Regions from separate parts of the Homo sapiens genome. Here regions 1, 2, 3 and 4 are each linked to region 5. Evidence: fine-mapped expression QTL. A gene starts in region 5. Each other region holds a variant in brackets. All regions are shown on one strand. Distances are between the middles of the regions. Region 1 has its middle 110 kb from the start of MAGEC2. Region 2 has its middle 7.2 kb from the start of SPANXD. Region 3 has its middle 66 kb from the start of SPANXA2-OT1. Region 4 overlaps MAGEC3 (MAGE family member C3). Region 5 holds the start of MAGEC3 (MAGE family member C3).

Region 1 (5,109 bases), 260 kb after region 5:
AACCATTTTTAGCTTGTGGACAGATTTGGCCTGTAAGCGATAGTTTGCTAACCTTTACTATAATAGGAAGAAGATAGGTTTTTGAGTCAATGCGCCTGGTACTATCCCTTTCTTGCTGTGTAATTTCTGACGTGTTACTTCACTGAGTTTGGTTTCCATCCTTGGAAAACAGAGATAATTTTGGTTTACATATACACAATGGAATATTATTCAGCCATAAAAAATGAAATCCTGTCATTTGCAACAACATGGATGGAGCAGGAAAGCATTATGTTAAGCAAAATAAGCCAGGGACAGAAAGACAAATATCACAAGTGCTTAACCATATATGAGAGATTAAAAATAGATCTCATCGAGATAGAAGGTAGAGTGATAGTTACCAGAGGCTGGAAAGGGTAGTGTGGAGAGGGAATATGAGGGGATGGTTAATGGGTACAAAAATACAGTTAGATAGAAGGAATAAGATCTAATTTTGATAGCTCAATAGAGTAACTATAGTTTGCACTAATTTACTGCATTTTCAAAGTAACTAGTGAAGTAAAAATGGTTGCTCTTAACATAAAAGAATTATAAATGCTTGAGATGATGGATATCCCAATTACCCTGATTTGATCATTACACATTGTATGCTCATATCAAAATTTCACAAGTAGTCCATAAATATGTGCCGGTATTATATAGCCACAAAAAATAAGTAAGTAAATAAATAAATAAATAAATAAATTCACTTTTAGCAGGGCTGGCTTATAAGCACATTATCTTCTAATTTTTTTTTATTTTTGTGGGTATATAGTAGGTGCATATATTTATGGGTTACATGAGGTATTTTGATACAGGCATGCAATGTGAAATAAGCACATCATGGAGAATGGGGTAACCATCCCCTTGAGCATTTATTCTTTGAATTTTTAAAAAATCCAATTGCACTCTTTAAATTATTAAATATACAATTAAGTTATTATTGACTATAGTAACCCTATTGTGCTATCAAATAGTAGGTCTTATTTGTGGGATCTAAAAATCAGAACAATTAAACCCATGAACATAGATAGTAGAAGAATCATTACCAGAATCTGGGAAGCGTAGTGGGAGTCTGGGAGGAGTTAGGAATGGTTAATGGGCACATTATCTGAGTAATCACACAGGGCCCTGCATTTAGAAGGGTTCAGCATTTGATTTAATACTCTACTGTCATTATCTTGAAATGCTTAATAATTTTGAACAGGTCCTGTATTTTCATTTCATACTGAACCCCGTGAATTATGTACACAACTCTGGCTCCTAGCATAAAGTAGAGGCCCTAAAAGAATAGCTATTGTTGTGACTATGTGTTGTAGTGTGTAATTAAGTGTAGATGAATAAAAAGGTAAATTTTTATCCTCAGTTAAAGAACCATGACTTCACTGGTGGACAATAAGAATACACTCTCATAGGACAAAAGCACTGATGACTAGCAAGATAGACATCCTTGGAACAGATGAGCATACTGGCCTGGGAAGTAAAGACACAGCGCTCTAATTCTGTAACATGACAAATTAGGGACCAAGAGGAAATGCTCCAGAGACAGCCAATTTATGTGGGGGACCTAACTGTTCTCTTACAATGAAGGTTTGAGCTATGAAATCACTTTGAGAATGTGCTGACTTTGCAGGGGTATGTGCACAGAATGTTAAACAACTCCTTGCAGTTGGGTCTTGCAGCAATCTTTATTTTGAGCGGTGACATCAGAGCATTTATCCAAACGCTTGTTTAAATAGAAATGCAAAAAGAGGTGCATTGCAGTGGCTGCCGTGCAGTGTAAATCTCACACTGGGAGTGAAATCTGGGGCGCTGAGGATGTCTTGCCAACACAGCACAGAGTCTGACCTACTGTTAGTTTTTTTTGCTCACTGTATGCCACCAAATGGGAAAACTCAGAGCTCCAAATGAATTACATGCTCACCAACATTTCACTTTTCAGAATTACTGCTCAAGTGGTGGCAAGCAGTATGAGATTTATAAACAAACAAGCCATGCCATTTTTTCCTATATATATGAAAGAATACTCCTATTGGTGAGAAAATTCCCTTTGACAGTCTTCCAGCATGTTTGTCTCTATGCCAAACAGTATTGCAAAATATTCTGGCTGATAGAAGAGCTCCAATCCCAGGTTCATAGGATAAACCCAGCTCTCTGCAGCTACTGTGAACTTCAGGTATGGCTTGAATTGTGAGAGTGCATTTTGCCAGTGTTATATACCCACTCTAGGGAGTGATTTCAGCCACTGGATGAATTAATCTTCAGAATTAGTTAAGTAAACAAATCATTACGAAATACATTATATTATTTACTAAGCAGTTTATATGTCTACAGTAATGACAATAACACACAGAACTTACAGCAGTATGAGACTGATATAAACAACACCCCTCCCTTACTAAAGTATTGGTGAAGCCCTGGCTTACTTAGGTGTGAAGCCTGTTGATGCTAATATTGAACAGTTTGATTTCCTTTGTCATTTAGGTGGTTAGGCTGCTTCTGAGCCACTTCTCCATTTCTTGCTAATTCCTATTAGGCTGGTCATCTCCCTGTATCAGCAGATATTCAGGGATAAAT[A/T]AACCAAACCTTACATCTTTGTGTTTTTAGACAAGAAATTTTGTAAGAAATACAAGCCACATTAGCCAACGTGTTCAGGAATCTCTGCTCTGCCGTGCTTCTCCTTTGGCCTCCTGTGATTGTGCACTGAGCCAGTTTGCTGTTCATTAGCACCTTCAATATGCACTGCGCAGGGCTGGAGAGAAAAGGTTAAGATCAAATGAGTCAATTTGGCTTCTTATTAGTAGCTTTGACAAAAGACTTGGTGGAGAAAAGTTTACAACTAATCACTAAAATGAGAGGAAATCAACCGTGCTATTCCTACCCCTGATTCCTGAGTGAGCAGAAGGTTGGATGATTTTTCTCTTTGCTAAATGGTGTCCTGAGGGTTTGAATGCTTGTAAAAATGCTTGCCTTTGTATTGTTTCTACAGTGGGAAACTCATCAGTTGTCTGGGATCAAATGGTTTTGCTAATTAATCCTTTTTTTAAAGCAATTTAAAGGAGCACAAATTTATTATTTTATAGTTCTGTAGGTCAGAAGTCTGATACAAATCTCACTGGGATGATATCGCAGCATAGGCAGGGCTGGGTTTATTTCTGGAGTATCTAGGGGAAAATCTGTTTCCTTGCCTTTTCTAGTTTCTAGAGGCTCCCAGCATTCCTTGCTTTGTGGCTCCCCTTCTTCCATCTTCAAAGCCAGCAATATCACATCTCTCTGACCCTTCTTCTGTTTCCACATATGTCTGACTGCAGCCAGGAAAAGTTGTCACCTTTTAAGGACTCATATGATTAGACTGGGATCTTAAAAACCAAAATATATTTTGCTAATTCACCCTTCCACTTAAATGACTTTTTTTTGTTTCTGTTTTTTTGTTTTGTTTTGTTTTGTTTTGTCTTTTTTACATGAAAGAGGCATATCTTTTGGGAGTAAGGTGAAGCAGAATATAACCAAGTAAAAAATGGAGTAAATACAGTAATTTTAGATAGTGGTAAGCGCTAGAGAGAAAATAAGGCAGGGTGAGGAGTCAAGGACTGAGTGTGATCATGATGTTGTTTCAGGTAAGGTGGTCTGAGAAGGCCTCTTGGAGAGGTAACATTTGATCAGAGACCTGAATGATGAGGGTAAACCTTGGGAAGTTCTGGTACAAGTGCCTTCCAAACAGAGGAATGGTAAAAGCTCTGAGGCAGGAAAGCATTTTGGCTGCATAAGAAGCGGCAATTAGGCTGGTGAAATTGAAACAGTGAACAAGGTGAAAGAGTAGTAAGAGACCAAATTAGAGGCACAGACAAAGATCTGATAATACAGAGTCCTGAAGCTTCTGCTAAGGAGTTTGGATTTGATTTTAAGTGCAGATGGGAGCCATTGTCTAGTGTTAAGCAGGAAACTGGCGTGGCCTGATTTATGGTTTAAAAAGATCATCCCATCTGCTGTATTGGGAACAGATACCAGAGAAGGTAAGAGTTAAAACCAAGAGTTAAAAGAGGTTGTTGAAATAAACAGATGAGAGATAATGTGTGAGACTTGGAATAGGATGATTGTAGCAGAGATGATGACAAATATCAGGATTTTAGAACAAATTTTAGGGCAGGTTTGCTAATGGGTTAGATTTGGGGAGAGGACAGGATTGAGGAGAAAAGAGAGGTCAAGGGTATAACACTTTGGTTAAAGGCCTGAGCGCTGTGTGGCCTTGGACAAGTAACTTAATGTCTCTGAACTTGTTTATTCATCTGTAAAGTGAGAATTACAATAGCTACCTTCCAGAGTCATTATTGCATTTATATATTCAACTAATATTAATTGGCCTCTTACACGCCAAACATTTTGCTGTTGCTTTACATTTTTTTTTTATCCTGAGTTGATTCTCACAAGGCTTCTAGAAGGTTATTATAGGACATTATTTCCATCTTACATATGGAACTGATATTCGGAGTTGTAAGGTTTGATAACACATGGCAAGTAAACAGCAGATGCAAGACTTAAATCCAGATCTTTGCTTCAAAGCTTATGATCTATCTGGCTGAGTGTTACTCAGATGAGTGATGATGGACTTACTCTTGGAGATATCACCCTATCTTAAGAATCTGCCTTATTACAACTGGAGACTCTAGTAAGAAGTAAAACTCTCCAACCTTTAAAGAAAGCAACAGGATCAGAGTTTCTCATCTAATTTCCTGAACTTCTTTAAAGAGATGGAATGGGAAAAGGGCATTTAGTTAAACTTTGCCCAGGGATTCCCCCAGGTTGTCTTTTTTTTTCTAGTTTAATTATATACCAAATGTTACTAAACAGATGGAATCCCACAAGCAGTTTAGCTTGAAAAAGCAGAATGCCTAAAAGGAGCTAACGCAAAGAACGATGAGGGTCACTGTTGCATTGTCAGGATAGTATAAATACTGTAAAAAGTGGTTTTTAAGATAGAGGAACAACGAACATCCCCAGAGTCAAATGATGCTTAAAATGAAGATGATATCCTTTTTAATACAGAGGCTTCTCTGTGTGTAAACATTGACGTGGAGTTTAAAGGAAATAAGA
Region 2 (5,109 bases), 130 kb before region 5:
GGTATCTCATAGTGGTTTTGATTTGCATTTCTCTGATGGCCAGTGATGATGAGCATTTTTTCATGTGTTTTTTGGCTGCATAAATGTCTTCTTTTGAGAAGTGTCTGTTCATATCCTTCACCCACTTGTCGATGGGGTTGTTTTTTTATTGTAAATTTGTTTGAGTTCATTGTAGATTCTGGATATTAGCCCTTTGTCAGAAGGGTAGATTTCAAAAATTTTCTCCCATGTTGTAGGTTGCCTGTTCACTCTGATGGTAGTTTCTTTTGCTGTGCAGAAGCTCTTTAGTTTAATTAGATCCCATTTGTCAATTTTGTCTTTTGTTGCCATTGCTTTTGGTGTTTTAGACATGAAGTCCTTGCCCATGCCTATGTCCTGAATGGTATTGCCTAGGTTTTCTTCTAGGGTTTTTATTGTTTTAGGTGTAACATTTACGTCTTTAATCCATCTTGAATTAATTTTTGTATAAGATGTAAGGAAGGGATCCAGTTTCAGCTTTCTACATATGGCTAGCCAGTTTTCCCGGCACCATTTATTAAATAGGGAATCGTTTCCCCATTTCTTGTTTTTGTCAGATTTGTCAAAGATCAGATAGTTGTAGATGTGTGGTATTATTTCTGAGGGCTCTGTTCTGTTCCATTGGTCTATATCTCTGTTTCGGTACCAGTACCATGCTATATCTGTGTTTTGGTTACTGTAGCCTTGTAGTATAGTTTGAAGTCAGGTAGCGTGATGCCTCCAGCTTTATTCTTTTGGCTTAGGATTGACTTGGCGATGCGGGCTCTTTTTTGGTGTCATTTGAACTTTAAAGTAGTTTTTTCCAATTCTGTGAAGGAAGTCATTGGTAGCTTGATGGGGATGGCATTGAATGTATAAATTACCTTGGGCAGTATGGCCATTTTCACGATATTGATTCTTCCTATCCATGAGTATGGACTGTTCTTCCATTTGTTTGTGTCCTCTTTTATTTCGTTGAGCAGTGGTTTGTAGTTCTTCTTGAAGAGGTCCTTCACATCCCTTGTAAGTTGGATTCCTAGGTATTTTATTCTCTTTGTAGCAATTGTGAATGGGAGTTCAGTCATGATTTGGCTCTCTGTCTGTTATTGGTGTATAGGAATGCTTGTGATTTTTGCACATTGATTTTGTATCCTGAGACTTTGCTGAAGTTGTCTATCAGCTTAAGGAGATTTTGGGCTGAGACAATGGGGTATTCTAGATATACAATCATGTCATCTGCAAACAGAGACGATTTGACTTCCTCTTTTCCGAATTGAATACCCTTTATTTCTTTCTCCTGCCTGATTGCCCTGGCCAGAACTTCCAACAGTATGTTGAATAGGAGTGGTGAGAGAGGGCATCCCTGTCTTGTGCCAGTTTTCAAAGGGAATGCTTCCAGGTTTTGCCCATTCAGCAGGATATTGGCTGTGGGTTTGTCATAGATCGCTCTTATTATTTTGAGATACATCCCAATAGTACCTAATTTATTGAGAGTTTTTAGCATGAAGGGTTGTTGAATTTTGTCAAAGGCCTTTTCTGCATCTATTGAGATAATCATGTGGTTTTTGTCTTTGGTTATGTTTATATGCTGGATTACATTTATTGATTTGTGTATGTTGAAGCAGCCTTGCATTCCAGGGATGAAGCCAACTTGATCATGGTGGATAATCTTTTTGATGTGCTGCTGGATTCCGTTTGCCAGTATTTTATTGAGGATTTTTGCATCGATGTTCATCAGGGATATTGGTCTAAAATTCTGTTTTTTTGTTGTGTCTCTGCTAGGCTTTGGTATCAGGATGATGCTGGCCTCATAAAATGAGTTAGGGAGGATTCCCTGTTTTTCTGTTGATTGGAATAGTTTCAGAAGGAATGGTACCAGCTCCTCCTTATAACTCTGGTAGAAGTTGGCTGTGAATCCTTCTATTCCTGGACTTTTTTTGGTTGGTAAACTATTAATTATTGCCTCAATTTCAGAACCTGTTATTGGTCTATTCAGGGATTCAACTTCTTCCTGGTTTAGTCTTGGTAGGGTGTATGTGTCGAGGAATTTATCCATTTCTTCTAGATTTTCTAGTTCATTTGCATAGAGGTGTTTATAGTATTCTCTGATGGTAGTTTGTATTTCTGTGGCATCAGTGGTGATATCCTCTTTATCATTTTTTATTGCGTGTATTTGATTCTTCTCTCTTTTCTTTTTTATTAGTCTTGCTAGCAGTCTATCAATTGTGTTGATCTTTTAAGAAAACCAGCTCCTGGATTCATTGGTTTTTTGGAGCATTTTTTGTGTCTCTATCTCCTTCAGTTCTGCTCTGATCTTAGTTATTTCTTGTCTTCTGCCAGCTTTTGAACGTGTTTGCTCTTGCTTCTCTAGTTCTTTTAATTGTGATGTTAGGGTGTCAATTTTAGATCTGTCCTGCTTTCTGTTGTAGGCATTTAGTGCTATAAATTTCCCTCTACGCACTGCTTTGAATGTGTCTCAGACATTCTGGTATGTTGTGTCTTTGTTCTTATTGGTTTAGCTACAAAGAAGCTTCTTAAATTTTAAAAAGCCCGCTCTATAATCTGATTGGTCAGTTTTTGTTCCATCATCAGTAGGTGGTTTCTCCGCGTTTAAGCCATTTAGGCGCCAGCTACTTCGGCGTTACTAATCTGCTCGGCATTAATGTAATATGCTATCCACACACAAGCCAAGATAGTAGCAAGTTTCAAGATGGGGTACATTACATGCCAATTTGATACGACCGTGTTTATTTTAAATGCTGCCTTATCATATACTAAATTATATATTCTTGAGTCTAAATCCAGACTTTGTACTGTGTTCCTTTTAGCTATTGCTCTTTGCCAATACCAAGTGTTTTGTTTTTTCTATCTTTATAATGGCATTGATGTTGGGACCGGTCTTCCCTCATTCGTCTTTATCAAAAGTATCTTAGTATCACCTGTTATTCCAGGTATATCTTTGAGTCCTTTTGCCAGTTTATTTTTAAATAATATTT[T/C]GATTGGAACAGAATAAAAATTATAATTACATTTACATAAAATAGAAATTTTTACTTTGATTATTCCTAAATACATTCTGTTGTTGTTTACTATAATAAATATGCCCACTTTTTACCATACTGAACCTCTAATTAGTTCTAAAAAGATATAGAATGAATTTTCTCACGTTTTCTCGGTATATAAGAATGTAATCTACAGATAATTACATATCTTATAAGGAATTACACATTGTTATTACACATATGTGTATATTCATTTGTTTATTTATTTATAGGAACTAGAGCTCATATATTTTAATATGGCTTCACCGCTTACCAGCTGTGATACTTTACATCTCTTAACCTCAACTTTCTTTAAAACTGAGAGACAGTTACTTACCACACAAGGTGATTTGGACCATCAAAGAATCACATGAGTTCATTTAGACAAAATGCTTAGAACAATGCCTATCACATAATAAGCACTATAAAGGGTTTTTTGTTGCTGCTGCCATTATTAATATTATTTTATTGGCCGCAACTTCAAAAGAAAAGAGAAATAATAGTGGTGTAAGTAAACATCTTTATTTTGCTCTTTATCTTAGGGATGATAGCCTTTAGAGATTTCTTTTACATGTTTATTTCATCTATATTTTTACATTATGAAGTATTTAAACTTATAGACATTTTGACATTTTGTAACTTAATTTATTGGTATGTGTATTAGTCCGTTCTCATGCTGCTAATAAAGACATACCCAAGACTGAGTTATTTATAAAGGAAAGAGGTTTAATTGACTCCCAGTTCAGCATGGCTGCAGAGGCCCCAGGAAACTTACAAATGATAACAGAAGAGGAAGCAAACACATCCTTCTTCACATGGCAGCAGGGAGAAAAATGAGTGTTGCGTTAGTCCATCTTCATGCTGCTGATAAAGACATACCTGAGACTGCGCAATTTTACTAAAAAAAGAGGTTTATTGGACTTACAGTTCCACATGGCTGGGGAGGCCTCACAATCATGGCAGAGGGCAAGGAGGAGCAAATCACATCTTATGTGAATGGCGGCAGACAAAAAGAGAGCTTGTGCAGGGAAACTCTGCCTTATAAAGCCTTCAAATCTCATGAGACTTATTCACTATCAAAAGAACAGCATGGGAAAGACCTGACCCCATGATTCATTTACCTCCCACCAGGCGCCTCCCACAATATGTGGAAATTCAAGTTGAGATTTGGGTGGGAACACAGCCAAACTGTATCATTATGCCCCTGGCCCTTCCAAATCTCATGTCTTCACATGTCAAAACCAATCATGCCTTCCCAACAGTCCCCCAGAGTCTTAACTCATTTCAACATGAACTCAAAGTCCACAGTCCAAAGTCTCATCTGAGACAAGGCAAGTCTCTTTCACCTATGAGCCTGTAAAATCAAAAGCAAGTTAGTTACTTCCTAGACACAATGGGAGTACAGGAATTGGGTAAATATAGCCACTCTAAAGGGGAGAAATTAGCCAAAACAAGGGGCTACAGGCCCCATGCAAGTCCAAAATCAAGTAGGGGAGTCACATATTAAAGCTTCAAAATGATCTCCTTTGACTCCATGTCTCACGTCTGGGTCACGCTGGTGCAGGAGATGGGTTCCCATGGTCTTGGGCAGCTCCACCCCTGTGGCTTTGCAGTGTACAGCCTCCCTCCCAGCTGCTTTCACAGGCTGGTGTTGGGTGTCTGTGGCTTTTCCAGGCACACGGTGCAAGCTGTCGGTGGATCTGCCATTCTTGGGTCTGGCAGATGGTGCCCCTCCTTTCACGGCTCCACGAAGTGGTGCCCCAGTAGGGACTCTGTGTGGGGGCTCCAACCCCACATTTCTCTTCCACACTGCCCTAGTAGAGGTTCTCCATGAGAGCCCCACCCCTGCAGCAAACTTCTGCCTGGACACCCAGGCATTTCCTTACATCTTCTGAAATCTAGGTATAGGTTCCCAAACCTCTATTCTTGACTTCTGTGCACCCACAGGCTCAACACCATGTGGAAGCTGCCAAGGCTTAGAGCTTGCACCCTCTGAAGCCACAGCCTGAGCTGCATCTTGACCTCTTTTAGTCATGGCTGGAGTAGCTGGGATGCAGGGCACCAAGTCCCTAAA
Region 3 (5,109 bases), 400 kb before region 5:
TGAGTGACTATGTGTTTGGAAAGTGGCAGCACCATGATTGTTTTTACTGACTTTTCATTGAGCAGGTATTTGGCAAAGTGAAATGTAAAAAATTGTGTGTACTTCTCCAGACAATAAAACACAAGGAACTTCCCTATAAAATCCTTTAGTGGCTTTTCCATTTATGTTTTAAAAGTCTGTAATAAGCAATTTTTGACTTTTAAATAGTTTATCATGTCTATGTTAAAATATACAATGCCTTATTTATTTTTAACTTTATGTTTATTGTATATATTTAAGGTGTACAATATAATGTTTTGATATACATATACATGGTGAAAAGATTACTACAGTCAAGCCAATTAGCATATCTGTCTTCTCACATAGCGTAACCTTTGTCTGAGAGTGCGTGTGTGTAGGTGTAGTAAGAGCACCTAAAATGTAATCTCTTTTCAGATTTCTTAGACACAGTACAAAATAATATTAACTATAGCCCTGGTGATGTAAATTAGACCTTATCCATCATAAATGACTACAACATACTTCTTTATAAAAATTTTAAATTATTGGTTTCAAAATCATGCTCCAACTTAGCAGACTCCATAACACTATTCAAAATGTTTTGCATATGAAAAACTAAGATAATTTATTGCCACATATAAGACTGAAGAAAATAAATTTTCATCATATATTTTGTCTTATTAGTTTTTCACCGTTTCTTTGGAGTAGATTATTCTCTTCCCTAAAACAGGCAATTATCTAGAATGTCAGCTTAATATTTTTTTCAGCATCTTTATGTGTACATATTACATTGTAAGCTGAGAAAGGAATTCTAGTCTTTCTTTTTAAGGCAAGAGTGTATCTTTAAATATAAGAAATTATAAATATATTTTGTTTTAGTAAACCATATGGTTTAAGTTATAAAGTAACAACTTTAGACAAAATTTAAAAAGTAATTAAAAAAAAATTTTAATATATTGCCAAAAAAACCCAATAATATATATCCATTTCCAGTTGTGTTTCTCCTTAGGCCCAAGAGAAATGAAAATTTTTTAAAAATTTAATTTAATGCACGATTCTGAAATTACAGAGATTAGAGCACGTATAACCCAAAGATATGTAGTAATAGAAAAGAAGCATCAAGAACAAATGGAATTTATCTCTGAAGTGCATATTTACATCTTAAACATACTACATTCTAAAGTTCTAGAAAACAGAATACACAAGCACACATTCCAGTAGCCTTAAGGGCACTGATGTTATTACAGGTCATGTAGCCTCTGGAGCATTCTCTGTAAACTCATGACAAAATTAATGGAAAAAGCAAAGACTATTTTAGAATTTTGATGAAAATAATTGTTGTTTTGTGGGTCTTGTTAAAGGATCTTGGGGACCCCATACCAATGTTCTTTGGACACACTTTGTGATCTTCTGGCATAGGCAGTGTTTTAACAAAATGAAACTATATTCATCATTAACATACAGTTCAAATGAAGTCAAGTCATCTTCTTCTGAAAATTTAAAGGGCCAGTCCTAAAATAGGCTTATGTCAATTCCATACAAATTCCATTGGCCAGAGTCCAGTCATGTAACTGTAACCTAACTGAAAGGGAATCTAGAAAATACAATGTTTCCCATGAATTTATGGTGAACAATAAAAATACATGCAATAGAACATTCAACCATAAACTCCTTATGTACCAACTTTTCCCAAGGAGCTGCCCAATAACCCACACTGGATTTTAAAGACCTTGAATTCTAAAACTATGTTTTATTCGATATTATACCTAGGGTCCTTGGTACATGGTACAATGTGGGGTACAGATGGCTGAATAAAACATAGCAGGTAATGTGACTAAACAAAGTCTCTACATCAAGAATACCATCATCTAAAAAAGAGAAACTGAAAGTTCTCATTTTCTATTTCTCCTTGATCACTATTGACAGTAATAGCTTATATTTATTAGGGAACAGTACAATGTGAAATTTCCTGAAGCGTTTATCTAAAGTTATCATGACTATCATGTCATCAATATGTAACATCTCCTGAAATCTGTTATAATTGACTATTATTGGGGCACAATATAGTAGCATCATTGATGATTAGCTTCAAATTCAGCTCTTGACAGGTCAAGTTTTGCAAAAAAGAAAAAAACAATATTTCACAGGCTTGATTTGTTGCCACTCCAGATTAAAAAAAAATGACTTACGTTCTTTATTTACAAGACACTTCTGCACAGAGTTGTACCCCAACTTTGGTGTTTACTACTGTGTTCTGCCAAAACAGAATCCTGTGTTTCTAAGTCTGTGAGGTCAAAAAATACATAATTAAGAGAACTCCTACAATTCTGCTTTATCCTAAATAACGATGATTGATGATTAATTGGAAATATTGAATTCACATGCCCTACCAATTCCATAAGATGATAGTCCTTCTCTAGAATATTTCCAACCTGAGTAAGGAGTTAGT[C/G]CCTCTTGGATAATAGGAACTATAATATGTGAAATTTGGGGTCTGAGATCCCAAATTTGAGATACTATGCTCTCCACTATATAAATAAAGCAAGCCAGTATAAGGTAGAAAACGATAACCAGATGTAGAGAGAAAATCAAATGACCGCCAGAACAAAACTTCTGCTGCCAGTTGTTCTGAAGCCTTGTTGCTACCATGTTTAATTAATATATGCTTTTATTAGCTCTCAGAAATTCCTCTATTTTCTTTCAATGTAGTATATTTACAGCCTAAACTAATTCAAGTTGCTTCTTTGCCATCTATAAACCAAAAAGTTTTAATTAATATATCAGTATTTTAAGTACAATTTTCAGTAATGAACTCAATAGAATCTATTCACTAAAGCAAATTGAACATTTATTAACTCAGATAAAAAAGGTCACATGAATAAATTTGAAAGGCTTATAGGAGGTAAATCAGAATGAAGTGCTACCATTTGATATTTCTCTTATATTTTCTTATATTTAAGAAGAAGTTCTTAATTCTTCTGTAAAAGTTATCTAAAGCTTAAATTTTAATGCATCTATTTTTCTCAAACTCCCTTGGAGGAATAGAGTGTGTTATTTGAGAGTAAAAACATAGGAGAACTTGAGGAGAACATTTAACAGCCTATTTCTCACATTTTGTTCAAAATGTTACCCATTTATATACCTTGTCAACTTTAAGTAATCAAAAAGATCAGAATCCAGTTCTAAAGAGTTTATTCGATTGAAAACCTAGAAATGACCATTTGGTACACACAGACCCCAGAGAAAAGGGATCAGTTCTCCAAAATTAAAAGTTGAGTTCTTGCTTATATTGGCAGAAAACAAAGAAATTTAATAAGACTGAAACACTTTCTGTAAAAGGCTGGTTTAAGAATTACAAAAAGTAACAGTTTGCTTTCTTCCCATAAGGCTTGTTTTCTTTTCATTACGGCTGGTTTTCATTTCCTTTCCAATTTAAAACAGTGTATTTAACATTTCATCTGAAGACAGTGTGGTAGTCATGAAGCCCTGTGTGAGAAAGATAAGAGGGAAGTTAATCTATAATGAAAATTAAGTGAAGAGGGATAGGGTCTTTCCTGGCATTCTTAAGTCATTTACAACATTTTACAAAACAATGCAGGTAAGGAAGAAGATTTAATCTATAATCACAGAAAGAAAGGTGACAACTGTCTAGGTTATAGCTGCTTGTCACATGACTCAGACCCCATAATCACGTACCTTTAAGGCTCAAAATAATTTAGAGTTCCAACACCTTAGGTTTTGAATTACTTGTTTTCAGAATCTTTTGAAAGTGTCTCTGCCAAATTCCCACTAAAATACTAAGGGAGACATAGAAGAGAAACTAAAAATAAACAATCATAAGAAACCCCATGTAATTATTTATTTATTTATTTAGAGACAAGGCCTCACTCTGTCTGTCTCCTAGGCTGGAGTGCAGTGGCACAATCATGGCTCACCGCAGCCTCCACCTCCTGGGCTCAAGCAATCCTCCCACCTCAGCCTCCCAAGTAGCTTGGGACCACAGGTGTACACCACCATGCCAGGCTATTTTTAAAGTTACTTTGTAGAGATATGGTCTCACTATGTTGCTCAGGTTGGTTTTGAACTCCTGGGCTCAAGTGTTTCTCCCACCTCAGCCTCCCAAAGTGCTGGGATTGTAGGCATGAGCCACAATGCTTGCAACTCTTTTTTAAAAAAACTTTTTATTTCCATAGGTTTTTGGGGAACAAGTGGTATTTGGTTACATGAGTAAGTTCTTTAGTGGTGATTTGTGAGATTTTGGTGCACCCATCACCCGAGCCATATACACTGAACCCAATTTGTGGTCTTTTATCCCTCAGCCTCCTCCCCATACTTTCCCTAGTCCCCAAAGTCCATTGTATTATTCTTATGCCTTTGCATCCTCATAGCTTAGCTCCTACTTATGAGTGTGAACATACGATGTTTACTTTTCCATTCCTGAGTTACTTCGCTTAGAATAATAGCCTGCAATCCCATCCAGGTTACTGTGAATGCCATTAATTCTTTCCTTTTTATGGCCGAGTAGTATTCTATCACATATATATACAGAAGAGTTTCTTTTCCACTCGTTGATTGATGGGCTTTTGGGTTGGTTCCACATTTTTGCAATTGTGAATTGTGCTGCTATAAACATGCATGTGCAAATATCTTTTTTGTATAATGACTTCTTTTCCTCAGGGGAGATACACAGTAGTGGTATTGCTGGATGAAATGGTAGTTCTACTTTTAGTTCTTTAAGGAATCTCCACACTGTTTTTCATAGTGGTTGTACTAGTTTACATTCCTGCCAGCAGTGTAGAAGTGTTCCCTGTTCACCACATTCATGCCAACATCTAATTTTTTAAAAAATTTTTCGATTATGGCCATTCTTGTGAGCATAAGATGGTATCACATTGTGGTTTTGATTTGCATTTCCCTGATCATTAGTGATGTTGAGCATTTTTTCATATGTTTGTTGACCATTTGTATGCCTTTTTTTGAGAATTGTCTATTCATGTCCTTAGCCCATTTTTTTGATTGGATTGTTTTTTTCTTGCAAATTTGTTTGAGTTTATTGTAGATTCTGGATGTTAGTCCTTTGTCTGATGTATAGATTGTGAAGATTTTCTCCCA
Region 4 (5,109 bases), 42 kb after region 5:
TCGATCTGTAGATTCCTTTTTGGGAAGAATCAACATATTTAAAATATTGAATCTTCATGCCCATGAATTTATTTTATTTTATGTTCAGGTAGGTCTTTGTTAATATGCCTCAACAGCATTTTAATATTTTTGTCTGTAAAAATTTTTTGGTTAAGCTTTTTTAACCAAAAAATATTTTAACCAGCCATCAGCTGCCTCCCAGTCTTATTTGGTTAAAATGTTTTTGGTTAAATTATTTTCCTAAGATACTTGATATTTTGGTACTATAGGTTAAAATTATATAGTCTTTACTTTCATTTTCATACTCTTTCCCTGACAAAAAACGAAGTTGATATTCTTTTGAATATTGACCTTATACTAGCAAACTGATATACTATTATATATTGAATAAATTATCTTTAGTTGTTTTGGATTCTTTTCATGCACAGTCTAATCATGCATGAATCACAAACGCTTTGTTTCCAACTGGCCAATCCTCATTCCTTCATTTACTGCTCTTTGGATTACTACACTGGCTACTACCTCTAGTATAAAAAGTAATAGAAGTACTTGTAGCAGAAACTCTAGGTTAGGTCTCAAGTTCAAACTAGAGGCTTCCAACATTTCCTTAAAAGATGTATCTGTTGTAGGTTTTTCATGCATATCCTTTTATCTAGTTTGGTAACATTTTTCATATTTGATAAACTTTATGTTTAAATAATTTTAGATTTACAAGAAAATTATAACAATAGTAAGAAAGTTCTCATATGTTCCACACTCAATGCCTCCTGTTATTAACACCTTACCTTGGTAAGGTTTCCTAAAACTAATGAGCCAGTATTTGTACATTGTTTTTAACAAACATTCTTTATTTATTATTGAACATACTTCAGTCACATTTTCTTACTTTTCACGAAATTCTATTTTCTATGCCAGGATCCCCTAAGGATACTCCATTACATTTAGTTATCATGTTCCTTCGATGCCCTTTGGCTGTACCGGTTGATTGAGACATTTCTCGATTTTGAAAACATTGACAGTTTTGACAGTTTCGTATGGTTAGGTATTTTGTAAAATTGACTTTGACTGGGATTTATGTGATTTTTTTCTGTCATGATTTGATGTAGGTAATGTTTCCTGGAAGGATGAACAGAGAGGTGAAGTGCCGTTCTTATCATACCGACAGCACATAGTACCAACAAAATTTGTCACTGATGATGTTAACTTGATTACCATGGCATCATCGTGCTTTTTAGCTTTATTCAGGGTAAAATTACATTATTTTTTGCCGTATGTTATACTGTCATCATGAGAAGAACAGGGAGACCCAGGACCAGCCAGTAGTCACATGAAGCCTCTGAGAGATAACTGCAAGACTCCCTGCCCACAAAGAGAAGGATCCACAGAATCCAGCTCCACTGCTGCTGTCAGCCCTGGGAGGCCCTGGGGCATGGTGGCCCACTGTGGTGTCCCCCTGACATTTTAGAGGGTAGAAAGAGGAGAAGGCTCTGCCTAGGTGAGTCTCACTTCAGATCATGAGAGGTGAAGGGACTCAGGCCCTTCCAGGCATCCCCAGGATGACACAGAGGAAGGACTGGTGAGACACCCCTCCCAAGAAACAGAAGGACACACAAATCCAGGCCCTGTTTTCACCCCTGGGAGGCCTTGGGCAGGGCCCTCAGTCAGAGATGCTAGCGCTTTTCACTTCGTCTTGGGGGGCGTCTCATGGAAATGGGGACCTTGATCTGAAGAACATAGTCTCTGGACAGCAGGGGAAGGGCTCCCAGGCCATGTCAGGAATAATAACTGCAGGAAAACAGAGAGTCCTGCCCACCCCATTTTAGAAAAAGGACACCAGAGTCCTGCCTTGGGCCTGGGAGGCCCCACCCCACTGTGGGTGGATGTGATTCTCCCTCTCTTGCACCTTGCAGGTCTCAGGGATGGGAGGGGCTTATTCGGAGGTGAAAGACTCAGTTGCACAGAGGCAGGAAGGCCAGGCGGTTTCCAGGAGTCCAGGCACAGCCTCTC[G/A]GGAAGGCAGGAAGGGAACACCCATGACTGGTAGTGCCCCTCCCCTGTCCCTGTGCCTGCTGCCAGCTCTGGAGGACCCTATCAGGGTCCCCAGGTTTACAACTTTCTGACTTGCATTTTGGGAGTCAGCCGGAGGGGAAGTTTTCTCTGAGGAGGGCAGTTTCAGTTAAGCAGAGGGAGGAACCCCAGGACTGGCCACTCAACGAGAAGAGAACTCTGTGGAAGGACAGTGACCTTCCAACATGGAGGAGAGGCACAGGCTACACCCTTTCCCTTCCTGCCGTCAGCCCTGGAAAAAGGTTGTGGGGGGAGAAAGCGGGGAGGTGGGCAGGGAAATATGGACGAGGGCTTTGAAGTGAGGAGGAAAAGGTGGAGGGATACCGAGAGGTGGGCAGGAAGGGGTGGAAAGGGTCGGGGAGGTAGGCAGGAAGGGGTGGAGGGGGCCCAGGAGATGGGCAGGAAGGGGTGGAGAAGGGCCGGGAGGTGGTCAGGAAAGTGTGGGAAAGAGGTAGAGAGGTGAGGGGTGGTTCCTCCATAGAGAGGAGACCTAGCCCCACTGGGAGTCTGAAGTATTTGAGGCATTTTGTGAGAAGGCTTAATTGAGATCAGCAGACAGAAGACTCTTAGAACTGGCCGATCCTCAAGGTAAGGGCCCTAAGGGAGAACTGAGGGACCTCCCACCACAGAAAGAAGAAGCTCTTGCCTGCCCTCTACCTGCTGTGAGATTGTAGGTCGCAGACAGGAAGAGGGTAACCGAGGGCTGAGGGACACGTCTTCATGACAGAAGAAGGGAGGAGGTGCCAGCTCTCTAGGGAATAAATAGGAAGACTTTGAGAAGGACAAGGGGAAACGCCACCTCAGAGGACAGACTCCCAGAGATTCCCAGCATGCTCCTCCATATCAGCCCTCGTAGAGCTCCCCAGTCAGCTCAGGCTGAGCGGCAGCCCTCTCATTGCTGGGTGAGAGGTGCAGGGAAAGGGAAGGCCTTGGTCTGAGGGTCCCGTGGCAAATCAGCACAGGGAGCTGCCTCCAGTTGGCAGAGGGAAGATTCCCAGGCCCTGCTGGGGATAAGAGTGAGGACTGAGGAGTCACATGTGCATCAGAACAGATGTGAGGCCAGCCCAACTGCCCCCGTGGTAGAGTGCTGGGAGGTGGCTGCCACCTCACTACCTCCCACTGCTCTCAGGGATGTGGAGTTTGCCCTGAGTTTTGGCTAGAAGAGTGGTAGGGACATGGCCCTGTCTGAGAAAAGGTGAGGATGCTAATTAAATTCTGATGGGACCATGCAGTCCAGAACTGTGGGGCTCTGGGAGTCTGGTCAGCCCCAGCTGTCAGCCTTGGGAGGCCCAAGACTCTGCTTGCAGTCTTTAGCCTGAGGGGCTCCCTCACTTCCTCTTGCAGGTGCTCCAGGAACCAGGAGTTGAAGACCTGGGTCTGAGGCACACTTCCTAAAGTCAGCACAGCAGAGGAGGCCCAGGCAATATCAGGAGTCAAGGTGAGTGCACGCCCTGACTGTGTACCAAGGGCCCTACCCCCACAAACAGAGCAGACCTGGCAGCACCTGGCCATAGCCACCTACTGCCATTCCTGGTGCCTCAGGCTCTGCCTGCCAGCTGTGCCCCGAGGTGCTTTCTCACATCCTCCTACAGGTTCCCAGGGGACAAACCCCCTAGGATGGCAGGTGACCCGTGAGGCCCTAGAGCACCACCTTAAGAGAAGAAGAGCTGTAAGCCGGCCTTTGTCAGAACCACCATGGGTGAGTTTCTCAGCTGAGGCCACTTGCAGTGTCCCTCTCTCCCTCAGGCCTGTTGGATGCCATCATCCACATCCCTGCTCACACATTTACCTCCTGCTCCTAAGGAAGACGTTATGCCTGTGTTTTGAAATGTTCCTAGCGGCAACTTTGAGAAAGACTTCCAGAACCAAACTGTGATAGAGAACTTGGCAGATGCACAGGATTCCACAGAGGAGGAAGAGGAGAAAACCTCCTCCATTTCCTCTTCCTCTTTCTACTTATTATTCCCCTCCTCTTCCTTCTCTTCTTCCTCCTTCTCCTCCTCTTTCTCCTCTTCCTCCTCCTCCTCCTCCTCATCCTCTACTCTGATTCTTGGTGCTCATGAGGAGGAGGAGGAGTAGCTGTCTGCTGGGATGCTGCCTCTTCCCCAGAATCCTCCTGAGAGTCCTCCCCAGGGTCCTCTCCAGGGTTCCCTGTCCTGCTCCTCCTCCACTTTATGAAGCCCATTCAATGAAGAGCCTAGCAGCCAATAAGATGAAGATACAAGTACCTGGCACAGCTTGCCAGAGAGCGAGCCCTTGTTCACTTATACACTGGATGAAAAGGTGGACAAGTTGGTGCAGTTTCTTCTCCTCAAATATCAAGCAAAAGAGCCTCTCACAAGAGCAGAGATGCAGATGAATGTCATCAACACATACACGGGCTACTTTCCTATGATCTTCAGGAAAGCCCGTGAGTTCATAGAGATTCTTTTTGGCATTTCCCTGACAGAAGTGGACCCCGACCATTTCTATGTCTTTGTAAACACATTAGACCTCACCTGTGAGGGGAGTCTGAGTGATGAGCAGGGCATGCCCCAGAACCGCCTCCTGATTCTTATTCTGAGTGTGATCTTCATAAAGGGCAACTGTGCATCTGAGGAGGTCATCTGGGAAGTGCTGAATGCAATAGGGGTGTGTGCTCAGAGGGAGCATTTCGTCTATCGGGAGCCCAGGGAGCTTGTCACTAAAGTTTGAGTGCAGGGACATTACCTGGAGTAGCGACATGTGCCCAGTAGTGCTCCTCCACGTTATGAATTCCTGTGGGGTCCTAGAGCCCATTCAGAAACTAGCAAGAGGAAAGTAGTGAGATTTTGGTCATGTGAAACAATACCGTCTCTAGTTCCTTTCCAATCTCTTCCAAGGATGCTTTGAAAGATGTGGAAGACAGAGCCCAGGCCATAATTGACACCAAAAATGATGCTACTGCCATGGCCAGTGCAAGGTTCCGTGTCATCTCCAGAAACTTCTCCTGTCCTGAGTGAAGTATAGGGCCGTTTCTTACGTCTGTGTTTGAAGAGGGCAGTCAGGGTCCTAGGTAGTGGAGGG
Region 5 (5,109 bases):
ATTCTGTCTGTTTAGAAGGAAGATAAACTACAGGTTGGCAGGTAGTTAGGGAGGCAATCACATCGGTTGTATGGCTTTGCATCTTGTCCAGCATTTAGTTTCTCAGGAATGCTTATTTGCAGTGGAGAAACAAGCTCCACACAGTGCAGCCTACACTTCCTCCAGATCTGCTCAAGTCTAATTTCCTTGCTTCTTCAAATTGGAATATCTGGACCAAGGTAGTGATAGGGGTTATATATTGATTTTTGAGTCTTCTTTCAATCTGGGCCAAATTATACTGGATCTGAATCATACCTCAAGAATTATATTGATTAAGACTCAGTTTTGTTTCAAGTTTCAGCATTGATGAATCCTTTCTGTTCATTTTGGTTAGTCACAGGGTGAGAGGTTTTATAAGCCAACACTATTTCCGCTTGCTTTCCCATAGCTTATTCAGTATATTGAAAAATTTTCAGGAAACAACAGCAAAATCCTACATAATATTCCTTGTTGAATATCAAATTTCTGTTTTTGACTTTCCATTGGAATAAGTCAGGAATGTCTACGTAAGACAATGCTTGAGGGTAAAAGATGAGTGAATGCGGAGATCTTTGTGAGATTGAGATGGCTGGCATCAGCTCTGAAGCCATGCGATCATTAATAGTAAGTTTCTGCTCTGCCATTTACAGATGCTGTAATCTGAATCGATCTTTCAATTTGTTCAAAATTCAGTTTTCTTTTAACTTTGTAAAATAAAAATAACTCTTGTTACTACATGTTGGGACATTTTTAACAGATTAAATGTGATAATATAAATCTGAAGTATTGAGCACTGTACCTGGCATAGAATGAGCTCATTATAATATCAGTCTCCTTATTCTTTCCCTTGTCTAACCATCAGTGGTGAGAAACAGCTGTTGATTTGCCAAAATATATGCATAATTTTATAAATGAAAACATCCAAAATCTCTTTGGGTGGCCTATTAAGGAATGAGCTACAGGGTTTTTCACCTTTATTACTATTGACATTTTGAGACAGATAGTTCTGTGGGCTTTTTTGAGGGGGTGTCATCTTGCTGAATTTAGAATGATTAGCAGCATTCCTAGTTTCTATTCAATAGATGCCGATAGCACCAAGAGCCATCCCAGTTGTGACAACCAAAAATATTTCCAGACTGCAAAATGTCTTCTTGGGATGGGGTGCAAAATCACCCCCAATCTGAGCACTACTGAGCTAGAGGAATGAAAAGGACATTGTGTTGGAAGAGGGTAGGGACTTAAGCTTTGAAATGTTGTTCATAGCTTGGAAGAGGCCCACCTTAGCCGTTTCTGCCATTGGGTGAACTAGGCTTTTTGTGCCTAGGTGTTAGTGAATGGATGTCAGAGCAGAAGGTAGGAGACAGGAGAAGAGTCTTCTCTATTTAGAGGGAATGGAAAAGATGCAGGGCAGTGTCAGAAGGTTTCAGATCTCTCATGAGCAAATGCAAAACTTCTGTGTTCTCAAGACCGGAAACACATTTCTCAGCCAAGGGAAGAGGCTAATTGAGAGGAGTGATCGTGGCTCTTCTTCATTTTCTTAGTAAGCTCCTGAAGGTGGCAAGACCGCAGAAAAGCAATGCATTTAATACCTCAGGGACTTGTTAGTGCCTGAAATTGAACATGGAGGCATTGGGATGATTTCATTGTGCCTCAGAAGTTATTAAACTGAGTCAGGCAAGTCTGCACTCTGGCTCCCCATGTGCAGGTGCAAGCAGTGGCCCCAGTGGGGATCCGAGGGCAGTTCCCTGGCTGGTGGGGTAATGTTCCAGGCAGGAACACAGCTGCCTCTGCTGCACAAAAAATCTGCCTGAAAAGTGGGAGGCAGCAGGTTGTAATAAGCCCCACTCAGCTCCCACACACTTGGCAAGTCAGTTTTCATACCCACAGTGTTCTGCTAGCAGCAGCAGCTAACTGGGTTTCAAGTGGCCCGTGCTCAGAATTTAAAACCATCCCAGGCCATAAGCTTTCCCTATGGACACAGAAACCATATCTTTCAGGCTGCATCCTTTCCAGTCCACCTGTGAAGCAGGGCCATGCAGCTCATGTGCCTTGTTGCCGTAGCACACTTCTCACTTGCCCCTCGGTTCTGGCCAATCAGCTTTGTCCTTACTAAGGATTATATCACAAATCCCAGTTGGGCTCTTCTCTCAAACTGTGACTGCAGCCTGAGTTAGACTTCTGCAACGTCCCGTGAGGTGGGATCAGGAATGGCTTCCCTCCATTCTTGCTGGAATCTGGGTCTGCACACAAAGCATGTCCCGATGCTGCTCCTTCTTATATATTCCTTACTTTTCACTGAATCACCTCTAGAGCTGAGTAGGTTTGAAGTCCTCCCTCATGACTTGTATTGCCTGGCTCGCCTGTGGGAGTATATGTCATGACAGCAATCTATCCCTCTCTCATGCTCTGGGGACTAATGGTTTTCCATCTGTTTTATGATGTAGTCTGTTGCCTGCCACTTCATTCAAAGGGTCTGTGGTTTCTTTCAGTTTTTCTGTTAAGTTCTTACATTGTTTCTTCGAATAAATTTTACAGCATGAATCTCTACATGCCATTTTGTCTTACCAAGTGGGATAAGTATGCTTATAATGCTTCCAATCTGCCATCTTGGAAAAAAAGAAAAAAAAAACTTTAAATATTTTGTCTGTAATGTGCTATGGAAGAGACCTTTTCACATTGTATCTGTTTAGGAATTGATGGGCCTCCTGTATCTCAATGTCTAAGTGTCTTGCTCGACTTAGGAAGTGTCATCTATTATTTCAATAAATAGGTCTTTGAAAACATGTTTTCTCTCTTTGCCTTCTGGGCTATCAGTGATTTTTATATTTGGTCACTTTATGTTGTTAGATAGATTCCAAAGGTTTATTTTATTATTTTCTTTTTTTCTTTATTTTTGTCTGACAGCGTTATTTCAAAAAAAACTGTCTTCAAGCAAAATGTGATCTTAACATAAGTCAGTTATGATTGAGTATATTGTTGAAGCTTTCATGTGTATTTTTTAGTTTATTCACTGCATTCTTTGGCTCCAGAATTTCTGTTCGTTCCTTTTTTATGGTCTCTATCTCTTTGGTAAAGACAGGGTGGCAGTGGCCATGCTGCTGCCCTGCCACTGGGTGTTGGATGCCACCTTCAGTGATGGCAGTCTAGGCCAGTGGGTGAAAAACACATGTGCCACATATGCCTTATCCCCAGTGGTGCTCCCACCTCAGCCCCAGGTGTGGTAGCCCATGAATGCTCATGTCTAAGCCCCAGGTTAACAGCCAGCTCTTCTTTTGCATCTCAGCCTCAGTGTTGCTTGGCTCCAAGACAGTGTGCAGTCTGTTGGGGGTGAGGCTCTAAGATGCTATCTTGCCCAGCCTTGATGTTCATGTCTTTCCCTTGGTTGCAGTAGCCTGTGGTCGCTCATGTCTGAATCTCCAGGGAAACATCAGACATTTAGTTTGCACCTAGGCCTCAATGCCACTGGGCTCCAGGACAGTATGTAGTTCATCGGGGGTGAGGCTCTGCAGTGGTGCCTCATTTGTGCCTCAGTCCTAAAAGCAGCAGCCCACGCCTTCGTCCCACCTCTGCACCAGATGCTGTAGTCTGTAGTCACTGATGCCTATGTCCCTGGGGCAGCAGTTCGTGCTTCTCTTGCACCTCAGCCCTGGGCTACTGGGCTCCAGGACAGTGCTCAGTCTGTTGAGGGCAGGGCTCTAAAATGGTACTTTGTTGTAGCTGCTTAAGTCTCAAGAAGTGTGAGGGACCCAGCGGGAGCTTTCTCCCTGAAGCAGTGCCATCATACAATCTCCTGGCAGCTTTCTATGTTAGTTTCGGGGCCCATGATGGTTGAAGGGATCTCCTGTGGCTGGGATTATAGGAGTCTATAGTGAGAATGTAAACTACTGAGGCTCTCTCACCTATCCTTTCTCTGTATTTGGAGTCTCTCAGCTCACAGCTGATCCTGGATGAGCAGGCTGCCTTGATTCCCTCTCCATCTCTGCTTTAAGTATTGCCTATCACTTTTCTAATGGATTCCAGTGATTTCCTTTGAATTATATATTCAAAGTGTGATTATCGACTCACCGTTTGGTTATTTTTAATGGAGAAAGTGAGTACAAAATGCCTCTAGTCTGCCATATTCATGGTTTCCAAGAAATAATTTTTAAAGGTTTTTAAATATTTTATGTAATTATAATGATTATGGGCATAAGAAGGATTATGGAGAAGAACGGAGCAAAATAAAAGCTTCATTCACTCTGCTGTCATATTTGATTATATCTTGAGGTCAAATTGATCTTTGCTATTGTCTTGGCTGCCGGCTCTGGCTACAGCTAATCCTGGGCAGGCTTTGCAGCTCCTACCACTTCCAGGCCCACAGCTGCAATCCCAAGCTTGCTCACCAAAACAAGTGTTTATTCATTATATCTTCAGTAGATTTTATTTTATAAATATGAATTGTTTATATGCATTTCTAATATGTCAAATGCTTTACTAGCTTTTTAATATCTTTATATCCATTTTCCCTGGATCATTACTTACTGTTCTTAACTCAGTGGTTCTTAACTGGAAGAGATTTTGCCACTTAGGGGATACTTGCCAATATCTAGAAATATTGTTGGTTGTCATAATTGGTGGCAGCAGGGAATGCTACTGGTATTTAATAAGCAGAGACAGAGATGCTTCTAAGCGTCTTATTGGACAAAGGACGACCTCACACAAGAAAGAATTATACTGCCTAAAATGTGATGGTGCTGACAGTGAGAAACCCTGAGTTTAACATAATTTGCTCAGAACTCTAAAAATGATTCACTTTCCAAAAATTTGCTGCATTTTTTCTTCTGGTCAGAATGTGCACAATGGAAATTCTTCCTGAAGGATTTGTGTGAGGAGACCTATTCTATAGCTGTTAAATGATTGGCAGGGAGGTTGATAGATGGAGGTGAAGTCAGCCAAAACTTAACTGATATTTAACAGCCAGGAAATACCCAACCTGGAAAGTATTCATTCATAGCATCACAAACCACTAAAGAAAAGTGATATTTTACCTCTGAGAAAGTTAACAGCAAAAGTATAGTCTTTCTAATTAGTTTTTAGCTTGCAATCTAAATA

What was found. PIP is the estimated chance that this variant, and not a neighbour inherited with it, causes the effect.
Region 1: its variant is fine-mapped to the expression of MAGEC3 in spleen (GTEx, PIP 0.98).
Region 2: its variant is fine-mapped to the expression of MAGEC3 in tibial nerve (GTEx, PIP 0.99).
Region 3: its variant is fine-mapped to the expression of MAGEC3 in breast (GTEx, PIP 0.98).
Region 4: its variant is fine-mapped to the expression of MAGEC3 in thyroid (GTEx, PIP above 0.99). The same link has a PIP of 0.9 or more in breast and left ventricle.

Annotation. Positions count from the first base shown.
Region 1 is chrX:142,094,334-142,099,442 of GRCh38, forward strand. No RefSeq gene overlaps it. Among named protein-coding and RNA genes, the nearest start is that of MAGEC2, 110 kb to the right of the region's middle. The variant A/T (reference allele first, on the strand shown) is at 2,596.
Region 2 is chrX:141,703,396-141,708,504 of GRCh38, forward strand. No RefSeq gene overlaps it. Among named protein-coding and RNA genes, the nearest start is that of SPANXD, 7.2 kb to the left of the region's middle. The variant T/C (reference allele first, on the strand shown) is at 2,994.
Region 3 is chrX:141,434,012-141,439,120 of GRCh38, forward strand. No RefSeq gene overlaps it. Among named protein-coding and RNA genes, the nearest start is that of SPANXA2-OT1, 66 kb to the right of the region's middle. The variant C/G (reference allele first, on the strand shown) is at 2,450.
Region 4 is chrX:141,877,102-141,882,210 of GRCh38, forward strand. MAGEC3 (MAGE family member C3) reads left to right here. Exons shown (of 8, transcript NM_138702.1): 3 at 2,074-2,330; 4 at 4,302-4,695. Among named protein-coding and RNA genes, the nearest start is that of MAGEC1, 24 kb to the right of the region's middle. The variant G/A (reference allele first, on the strand shown) is at 2,008.
Region 5 is chrX:141,835,206-141,840,314 of GRCh38, forward strand. It overlaps MAGEC3 (MAGE family member C3), which reads left to right and starts at 3,111. Exons shown (of 8, transcript NM_138702.1): 1 at 3,111-3,233. The coding sequence starts at 3,111.